Linked DNA regions of Homo sapiens: region 1 is linked to region 2. Evidence: fine-mapped expression QTL. A gene starts in region 2. The other region holds a variant in brackets. All regions are shown on one strand. Distances are from middle to middle.

Evidence for each region. PIP is the estimated chance that this variant, and not a neighbour inherited with it, causes the effect.
Region 1: its variant is the best candidate, but not a certain one, in a credible set for the expression of KIAA1755 in testis (GTEx, PIP 0.70).

What each region holds. Positions count from the first base shown.
Region 1 is chr20:38,233,859-38,239,236 of GRCh38, reverse strand. All of the region lies in intron 4 of KIAA1755, which reads left to right. Among named protein-coding and RNA genes, the nearest start is that of KIAA1755, 24 kb to the left of the region's middle. The variant G/A (reference allele first, on the strand shown) is at 2,563.
Region 2 is chr20:38,257,856-38,263,233 of GRCh38, reverse strand. It overlaps KIAA1755, which reads left to right and starts at 2,499. Exons shown (of 14, transcript NM_001029864.2): 1 at 2,499-2,736. The coding sequence starts at 2,734. LOC149684 (a long non-coding RNA gene) reads right to left here and starts at 3,059. Exons shown (of 2, transcript NR_104170.1): 1 at 2,878-3,059. LOC124904900 (a long non-coding RNA gene) reads right to left here. Exons shown (of 3, transcript XR_007067581.1): 3 at 5,373-5,378. RefSeq lists an enhancer at 2,242-2,741.

The sequences.
Region 1 (5,378 bases), 24 kb after region 2:
ATAGATTTTTGGGAAAGTGACCTATTGGAGGAGGGCTCTGAGGAGAAGGACAGAGGGTCAAGGCAGGGGAAGGAGCCAAGCAAGGCTGTGGGCTGACCCCAAGGAGAGCACTGGGGCATGACCCGCCCCACAGAGCTGGCTCCAGCTGAAGGTGTAGGGGACTGGCCTTTTATAAGCCTTGTCTGTCAGTCATTAACTGTGGGCTGATCCCCAGTCTGTCCGTCATTAATGAACTGCAGGAACTTCGGGCTGATCCTGGAATGGGGTGGGGCAGGGGGAGCCAGTGATCCAGTTCAGCCCAGAGTGCTTCTTCAGAGAGGGGGCATCTGTGAGCCACTGACAACTGATACTTTCAGACTCTGGGGATGGGTTCTCTGCCTGCTGAGGGGATCTGGGTTTGGGGTACTAGCAGCATCCAATACAGAAGGTCTTATCACTCGTATTTAATATTTCCCCATTGTTGTAACAGACATTTACTGGTTCCTGGGCTTAGCACTGGCGATTCATAAGAGAACAAGTCTGATGTGTTCTCTGCTATCAGGAAACCTATATTCTAGTGGTGGGGAAAAGCCAACAGGTTATCACAACAGATTATTGAAACCCAGTGTAAACAAAGTGTGACAGTTGGGAAGGACAGGGGGCTGTGGGAGCACAGATGAGTCCCCTGGTTCAGGCTTAGGGTAGTAGAGGTCAAGGATGACTTCCCGGAGGAAGTAACGTAAAGCCCAGTCCTATGGTATGAGTAGGAATTATCCAGGTGAAGAGTTGGGAACGGCGTTCCAGACAAAGGGAACAGCATGTGCAAAGGTCCAGAGACAAGAGAACCACAGTGCTTTCTGGAGACTGATTGTCCTGAAATACTATTTTACTTCACAGACTTCCATATCTCTTCAGGACCTTGAGCACTGCCCTGTCTTTTTGCAGCTCCCAGGAGACCTTATCTGTCATTTTCCTGGTCATCTTTGCTGAAGCTCCTGCTGTTTGTTCCATATTAATTGTACACAAAGGATCTCATGATCCTCTTAGGGCCATCATGGGCCAAGGGCTCAGATTTTGTCCATGGAAGGCTCTGCTATGGGAGGAAGGTGACCTTTGTTTTAGTTCTAACTCTATCATTAGCTCCCTGTGTGTCCTTGGAGAAGTCACTGCCCTCTCTGGGCCTCCTTGAGAGGAGGAGAATAGACAGATAGGACCTGGCTCACTGTCACTCTTCCCTCAGTTACTTTTGTTGTAATTCTTGGGGGTTGCAACATGCACTGTTAGCTCGCACATGCCTGATGTGTAGCATGTGTGCAAAAAGCATTTGCTGTGTGAATGAGCAACGTCCACATGCGTGCTCCTTCTGTCCGTTTTTTGTCCTGCTCTTCTCTAGTGATCTTGTCCTCATTCCCCACATGACTCCCCCCATCGCATCCCCCGTAACCAACTTCTCCCCGCCGGGTTTTCATGTTAAGGCTCCCTCTCCTTTATTACCACTGCTTCTCTTTCCAGGTCACCCACTGCCCCAAGTTTCATCATCTTCAGGCCTCCCAAAACCTTGAACCTATTGGTTCAACCACCTTTTCACTCCCCTTTTCCAGCATGTCTCCCCACCCTCCACCACATCCCTTCCCCATCATCATATCTTCCTCACTCTCCACCACATCCCTTCCCCATCATTATGTCTCCCCCACCTTCTGTCACATCCTCACATCCCTTCTTCCTAGCTTAGATTCCAGGCTCACATTGTAATCACTTCCTTTCAAACACTCACTCGCTTGCTTTCCTCTTCCACCTTCACACTTACCCAGATAAATCCCAACCTCCGTGAGATCCAACTCTCCACCTGCACCCTCAAGCTGAACGAAGCTGGAAAAATCCACACAATTGTGCAGGCTAATTGTGTTGAATTCCTGACCACTGACCTCTGGGGGTCCCAATGGTGCTAGTGGATCCTACTTCACCTCCAGAGTCCTGAATGACTCCCCCACAGTCCTGTGTGATGACTTCACACCTTCTCTCTCCTTTGACCTTCAACACCACCTTCCCCAACTTAAATCTCAGCTGATGACCTTCCTTCTGGTCTGAGTGAGTAAGCAGAAGCAATTGGAAGGAAGTCTATGAATTGCTTCTGCTTACTCAGTCAGACCAGAAGGAAGGTCATTCACCTACCTGCTGGCATCTGTACCCACAGGCTCAGCATTCTAGTATGGATGAATTGTCCATGTGCCTGAGGCTGACCCTGAACCCGTGCTCTGTTCCTCTTTACCTCCTCAAAGACATCCCTCCAGCAAGATTCTCTTCTCCTTCCTACAGGATCATCTTTCCTCTTTGGCTCTGGGCCATTCCCATCAGGATGAGAACACGCTGCAATATTGCCCAGCTTGAAATGAGCTATTCTAGGCCCCCGTGTTCCCACCCTCACCCTTTTACATTAAAACTCCACAAAGCAGTTGTCTGTGTTCCCTGTTTCCACACCTTCTCTCTTCCACTCACTCTAATCAGAATCCCTTCCCCACTGTGCCACTGAGACACGTCTTGTCAAGGTCGTCATTGCGTTCCATGTTTCTAGATCCAGGGGTC[G/A]ATTCTCAGTCCTCATCACCCTAGGCCCTTCCGCAGCATTTGGCATGGATGGCCACTTCCTCCTGTTGAAAGGCTTTCTTCACTTGCCATTAGATCTTCAGTCACCCAGTCCTCCTCTCACCTCACTGGCCACAATTTTGCAGCCTCCTTTCCTGTCTCCTCATCTCCACAACCTGTAAATCCTGGAGGGCCCCCAAAGCCCAGTCCTTGGTCCCTTTCTCCTCTCCATCCACACTCACTTCCTAGGCGATCTCATCCTGGAGGTGGAATATTTTCTGTAAATGCTCTCTCCAGGCTGACAACCCCGACACTGATTTTTCCAGCCTGGGCCCTGGCCATGAACTCCAGACTTATCCATCCAGCTGTTTACTACTTGATGTCTCTGCGTGGAGGTCTCACAGACATCTCTAACTTAGCATGCCCAAATATGGACTCCTGACTTCACATCCCCTCACCCCACACTTCCCAACCTTCCAGTCTTTCCTCATGGCAGTAAAAGATGACCACATCATCCTTGATTGCTCTTTCTCTTACATCCCACATTCAATTTGTTAACTGTCAACTCTCCCATTAAATTGTATTCAGAATCTGTTGACTTCACCCCACCCAAGTCCAAACCAGCGTGGTCTCTTGCCTGCTGCAGTGGTCTCCTCGCTGGTGTCTCTGCGTCCACACCGGCCTCTGTTGGAGTTTCCTTATAGGGCAAACAGTCCCCAGAGCCTGTGCTTCAAGATCTAGATCTGCTCCAAGCCAGCCCTGTGAAGCAGGTCTCCCCGTAAAGTTTTCATAAAGATCTGTTCTCAGGAAAGAAACTGATCAACATGCAGGTGTGAATGTCTGCTCCCATGCTGGGGATGGGGTTTTGTTTAATAGGCACTGTGTTTCCCATTGTGGCCATAACAAGTTATTACAAATTAGTGACGTAAAACAACACAAATGTATTATCTGATCGCTCTGTATGTTAGAAGCTCAACATGGATCTCGCTAGGCTACATCCAGCTGTCTGCAGAGCTGCATTCTTTCCTGGAGGCTCTAAGGGAGACTCCATTTCCTTGCCTTTTCCAGCTTCTAGAGACCACTACTTTCCTTGGCTTGTGGCCCCTTCCTCCATCCTCAAAGCCAGCAATGTTGCATCTCCCTCACCCCCCATCCATCTTGGCACCTTGCTCCTACCAAAGCCAGGAAAAGTTCTCTGCTTTTAAGGATTCCTATGATTAGAGTGGATGATCCAGGATAATCTCCCCACCTCAAGGTCCTGCCCTTCATCACATCTGCAGTGTCCCTTTTGCCATGTAAGGTAACATATTCAAGGTTCTGGGGATTAGGGCATGGACATCTTTGGGGCCACAGGCACGAAGCCTTAGGAGAGGGCTTCCCTGTCTTTCCACTGGAAAATCCCTAATGCAGAAGAGAATGAACAGAGCCCCTGAGATTGAGACCTCACCCTGAGCTCTCAGTTGCTCCATATAGATCTTTGAAATCCTTTTTGCCTTTAAAATTTCTATACATTTTAAATATCCATAAATAGAATACATTCACACTCGTTTTGATATGAAAAAATGCTTTTAATTGCTTGCAAATTCAATTACTTACCATTCCTCCCTCCCCAAACTTGGAGTGACTCTTCATGCTGCTGGCAGATGCAACACATTTTTCAGCAACTTTGGGCAACCCCGACTTACCCACCACCCTCATTTTGCCATCCTCATTTTCACCTGAGGCTCACAATATCTGTGAACAGCACAGCTTCAAGCCACGGTTCTGAGATGCTAATGATGGTATTTCTGGCGCCAGCTGGTAGGTGAGGATAACATTTGGGGCAAAAGGGTCTCCTTGGCCCAGCTGAAGACAAATCAGGTGGACAACTGCCCCTTGCTGTAATCAACTCAGCTGGCACTGGGTGTGTGCAGGGCCCTGTTCCAGGCAGTGTGGGGAACCAGACATGTGAACTAATCGTATGACTACTGTGTCCCAGTGTGGAATGTCCTGAGTGTGTGAACCCTTTGCTGCTCAAAGTGTGGTCTGGGGACTACCTACATCAGCGTGACCTTGGAGCTAGGGGGAGAGGCAGAATCTCAGGCCTGCTGAACTGGCATCTGCATTCTAACAAGATCCCCAGGCCCATCAAAGTTTGAGAGGTGTTGCTCTAACCCTCCATTCCTTCATGAATCAATCACAGACATTGATTATCCAGCCTTGTGCTGAGCACAGGGATGCAACAATGAGTTTGACCCAGTGCACACCCGTAAGGGCTCTCAGTCTTGCAGGATCTCACAGAGGCCTACATTTGCTTTGGGAACCTGGGACTGGGGAAGAGCTTCTAAAGAGGGAAGGCAGTAAGGAGGTCTTCCAGGAAGAGGTGGCATCTTGGCTAGTCTTTGAGCGATGAGGGGGATTTCACCAGATAGAGATAGGACAGAAGGGCATACCTGGCAGAAGGAATAGGGTGAACAAAGCTGGGTGGTATCATCTGTCATTGGTGGCAAGGGGAGACTTAGTATATTAGTGTCCCAGGACTGCCATAACGTGGGTGGCTTAAGCAACAGAGATTCATTTTCTCATAGGTCTGGAGGCTGGAAGTCCAAGATCAAGGTGTTGGCAGGGTTGTTTCCTTCTGTGGCCTCTCTCCTTGGCTTGCAAATGCCCATCTTCTCCCTGTATCTTCATGGGGTCTTCCCTCTGTGTCCAAATTTCTTCTTGTAAGGACACTGGCCATATTCTATTAGGGCCCACAGTAACCTCATTTTAACTGAATTACCTCTTTAAACACCCTATCTCCAAATACAGTCACATGCTGATGTACTGGGAGTTAAGAC
Region 2 (5,378 bases):
GCCCCAGCCTTCGCATTGATTCTCTGACTGCCAATCCATTCTTTTCTGCTTAATTAACTCAGAATCCGCTTCTGTTGCCTGCAACCCCAGAACGCTGGCTGTCATGTCAATTCTGTCTCATGGCAACCTGGGACTCTAAAACCTTCAAGCTGTGACCCCACAACTCTCAGTGGAATTCTGTACTGAACATCAAGTCTGTTCTCTCCTAAATTCACATCTGGAGTCATGATACTAAAACCATCCAGACCATCTCCTGTAGAGAGAGTTTACTTGATTGCTGGGCTGTGGAAATATTGCAGGGGATTATTAGTCCCAAATTAGTGATAAGCAAGTGAAGGTCGGGGATGTGAAGGAACTTATCAAAAGTTGGGATAGGATGGCTCCTAATTCAGGTTTTCTCTGCTAAAAGACTGATTAACCTATGTGGGGTGGGAGATGGGCTGTGAATAAGGCTTGGGTCTGAACTCTAACCCTTACAACTACACTCGTCTTTTTCAGTTCTTCACTTACTCCCCAGCTCCTTTAAGCTTAATATTGCCTCAGAGCCTTTGCATATGCGGTTCTCTCTGCTTAGAACTTGGTTCCTCTGCGTCTCCCCATCTCCACTCTTCTAATTCCTCCCCTTTCAGATCTAGGCTTTCAGACCCAGGCTTCCTAGACCACCAGCTATAAGTTGATCCCTCTACTGTTCCCAATGTCAACATTTGTTTGTTTCCTTCTTAGCAGTTACCACAGTTATTATTTTTTTATTTTTCCTGTTTATCTGCTCCTTGCCTGTCTCCCCCACTAGACTGTACATTACTTGAGGGCCGGGACTCTCAAGTAATGTATAGTCTAGTGGGGGAGACAGGCTGACTCAGTGCACAGTGTTTGATAAATAAATGGACAAAACCCTGAGCCATCTAACCAGGAATAACTTTGGTCACTGTTTTAGTCTGGGCTGCTATAACAACATACCTTAGACTGAGGGGCTTATACACAACAGAAATTCTCTTCTCACAGTTCTGGAGGCTGGGAAGCCCTAGATCAAGGCACAAGCAAGTTGGGTGTTTGGTAAGAGCCTTCTTTCTGGACCTTATGTTTCTGGGCCTTTCTGGTTCATAGACAGCCCCTTCTCGCTGTGTCCTTCCATGGTGGAAGGGGCAAGGCAGCTAGCTCTCTGGGGCCTCTTGGGCACTAAGCTGGGCATGGTGGCTCACGCCTGTAATCCCAGCACTTTAGGAGGGTGAGGTGGGCAGATCACCTGAGGTCAGGAGTTCGAGACCAGCCTGGCCAACATGGCGAAATGCAGTCTCTACTAAAAATACAAAAATTGGCCAGGTGTGGTGGCGGGTGCCTAAAATCCCAGCTGCTCGGGAGGCTGAGGCAGGAAAATTGCTTGAACCTGGGAGGTAGAGGTTGCAGTGAGCTGAGATCATGCCACTGCACTCCAGCTTGGGTGGGCAACAGAGTGAGACTCCATCTCAAATATATATGTGTGTGCGTGTGTGTGTATATATATGTATATATGTGTGTATATATATGTGTGTGTATATATATGTGTGTGTATATATGCCTATACATATTAGTGCCTATATATGTATATATATAGGTGTATATATGTATATATATAGGTGTATATATGTATATATATAGGTATATATATGTAGGTGTATATATATATATAGAGAGAGGCACTAATCCCATTCGTGAGGGCTCTGTCCTCTCATGACCCAATCACTTTCCAAAGGCCCCACCTCCTAATGCCATCATACTGAGGATTAGGTCTGGACATACGAATTTGGGAGGGGACACACACATATAGACCCTAGCGGTCATCTAGTTTCTTAGTCTCACTCCAAAGCTGAGGCTCAGTAGGAAATACCGACTTGGCCAAGGTCATTATCTGAGAGTCAAGAACAGAACTCGCACACAGCCATCATCACCTCAAAGCCTTGAATTAGGCCGTCATGATGGGGCATAATGTGGGAGAATTCAAGGGCGCTGGGACAGATGCTTACTCCTCATCACCAAATCTAAGCAGCAGGCACTATCATCATCATCATCATCATCATCATCATCATCATCATCCTCCTCCCACCCCATTTTACAGATGAAGAAATCGAAGCTTAAGAGAGTCTGTGACTCCCTGGGAAGTGTAGGAGGAGGAGACTCGAACTTGGGCCTGCCAGCGAGGTCCGCGGGCGCTTAACCCGGCTGCTGCGGCTCGAGGCCTCGCTCTGCGGGTCTGTACAATGGGGCTGTCCGGGCCGGGTGCGCCGTGGGAAGAGCGAGGAGCGGGGAGGAAAACTTGGCGGGGCGGACTCGGGTTCCTCGGGTTCCAGCTGGCTGCTGAGGGGGTGGACGGAGGGAAGGGGGGGCGGTGGGGGCGGGGCGCGCGGGCTGGGCACAAAGGGCTCAGGCACAAAGGGGCCGCTGTCCCGCCGCGCCCCGCCCCGCCCCGCCTCTGCTGCCGCCCCCCGTCTGGTGGCCCGACCCGCGCCGCCCGCGGCTCCCTTATGTCTCTCGCCGTCTCCAGCCTCAGTCCCTCTCTGTCTCTCTCTCAGTCTCTCTCCCTGTCCTCCCCGGCCGCTCCTCCGAGATGACGCCGGGGTCGGTGCCCCGGGCCTGCCCTATCCCCTGGCTCCAGGGCTAGGCGGGACCGAGGGCTGCCCCAGACAGACGGACCCGCGGACCCACAGACCCCGCGCCCAGGAGAGGAGCCGCGCCGCCCGCCGCTGGCAGCCCGTCACCATGGTAACGCGCCAAGGCCTGGACCACCTCGCTCTGCCCCCTTTCAGTGGGCACAGCCCTCCCCATTCCCTGCAGAACAGCCCCGGGTGGCCCTGGCCTTTTACACTGAGACGACCCTCAGTGCCTTGGCAGGGTTGTGCTTACCTGCTTCCACCCCAGCAGGGGTTCAAGGGCAGGAGCCCATCTCTGGCCGCGTCCTCTCCTGGCTTCTCCATGTGTGTGTATGGATGGAGTAAGATTGTACTTGTAAACTTTAATATTCCCCAACCCCTAGACCTGAGCCTGAATCTCAGCCCTGAGGCTGAGGGCTGAAACGGGGTGGTTTTGCATGTTTGTTTTGGAACTGACTGTGATATGCACATTGTCCCGGCAGGGAGTTTGGATGGGGAAGAGTGGTGGTGGGGGTTAAAGTCCCCTCCCAGGCCAGCCAGGCAGTGCAGGGCGAGGAGGGTTAAGGGTCCAGGGTGAAAAGGAGAGAACTGCTTACCAAAACTTGGGATGCTTTTGCTGTTTTAGACTCAGCTATGGAAAGTCAGATATACACATTGAAACCCAGGGTGCTTCCATGGGAATTGGCTGGGGAGAGGGAAGAGGAAGGGACTTTTGGAGCTGGAACCTTGAAAAAAGTTGAGACATTCTGGGAGAATGTGTGTGTGTGTGTGTGTGTGTGTGTGTGTGTGGTGGTGGTGGTGGCAGGGATGCGTTTGTGCCAGTATCTGGCAACAGGGAATGAAAGAAAAGTCTGTTTTTGGAGGATTTCAGCCCAGCTCCAGACAGATACAAGAGCCCCAGGCAGATTCACAGGGGCTGTAAGGATTTTGAAAAAAGCTGTGAAGACAGGCCAAGGCTTTAACCCTGTGACTGTGACCAACCATGTTGAATTTGTGTGGGTTTTCACTCACAGCAAATGCATCTCCACAAGCAGAAGAATTCCATATAGAGGTGTTCATACTCTCTCTCTCTCTCTCTCACACACACACACACACACACGCAGGCACTCACACACACGTACACATGCACACACACGTACACATGCACACACACATACACATGCACGCACAGAGCACACCTGAATGCTCCCACTGACTCACACAGCTGAACACATGTTCACACCCTCTCATACACCCATGCCTTCTGCACCTGCTCCCCCATACTGCTAAACTATGGGCATACATTGGCATACACACCACAGACATATTGCAAAACCGGGCACCTACATCCATGCACTGCGGGGACAGGTGTACACACACATGGCTCTTGGAGCTGTTTGAAAATACTCTCATAAGCCAGTGGTTATTCACCTCTCCCTACAGGCAAGGCCCTGTGCTAGGTGATTTACATCCAGGAGTCAGTAACTCATACCAACTCTAAGATTAGACCTGCGGCTATCTCCAACAGATGGGGACCTCAGGCTCTGGGAACTTAAGTAGCTGCCCAAGGTCACCCCACCCAGAAAGTGCAAGTTAGGACAGTCTGAATTCTGAGCCTGCACTCGGCGGTCATGGTCACTCCAGGGCCACAGCGTGCACCTGGTGTTTGCCAAGCCTCTCCTGCTTTCACACCTAACCTAGTCATTAGAAACCCCTCATTGAACCCCAGATCCTCAGATCAAGGGTCAGGCACTGGTCTGCCCCCTGTCAAAGGGTGAGCAACTCTTTCCAGATTGGGAACAATGTGCAGATTTCCTTCCCTTGCCTGTTTTTTAAAGAATAAAGGTTGTTGCCAGCCTACCTCCCTGGCCTCACTTCTGTGCTCCAGCCACTCCAGCCTTGCTTGCGAGCCTCTTATGGTTCACGCTCCCTGCTGCCCCAGGGCCTTTGCACATGCTGTTCCTGCTTGGAGGAATACCTTCACCTAATGAATTCTTATTTACCCGGTAAATCTTCACCCAAATGTCACCTCTTCAGGAAAGCCTTCCCTGATTTCCCTGACTCTTACTCTAGCATGTCATGTATCTTTCCTTTATGATAACCCATCATAGCTGTAATTTTTGTGGGGCATTTGATTAACAGCTGTCTAGTGTTTGGGGGCACCCCCATGTCAGAGAATCTTATGGCAAAGGGGCTTAGGGTTGATCCTGTCCCATGGTTCCCAAATGTTAGTATCACTGAAACAACTTTTACACATCCACTTACTGGATAAAATATATAAGAAAATGATAAAATCTACTACTTATTATTTGCTCAATATTTTTCTTTAAATCAACTTACTTTGTACACTGAAAAATATATTTAAATAGAAAATTTTATATCACAACCATGAAAAAATCAGTATCCATTGTCATAAATAGAAAGTAACTAAGCCGGGCGCAGTGGCTCACGCCTGTAATCTCAGCACTTTGGGAGGCCGAGGCTGGCGGATCACCAGAGGTCAGGAGTTCAAGACCTGCCTGGCCAACATGGTGAAACCCCGTCTCTACTGAAAACAGAAAAAACTAGCCGGGCATGGTGGCAGGTGCCTGTAATCCCAGCTACTCGGGAGGCTGAGGCAGGAGAATCACTTGAACCCCGGAGGCGGAGGTTGCAGTGAGCCGAGATCGCACCATTGCACTCCAGCCTGGAGGACAAGAGCGAGACTTTGTCTCAAAAAAAAAAAAAAAAGTAACTATAAAAATATGTACTCAATGAAGGCAAATCTGTGTTAGT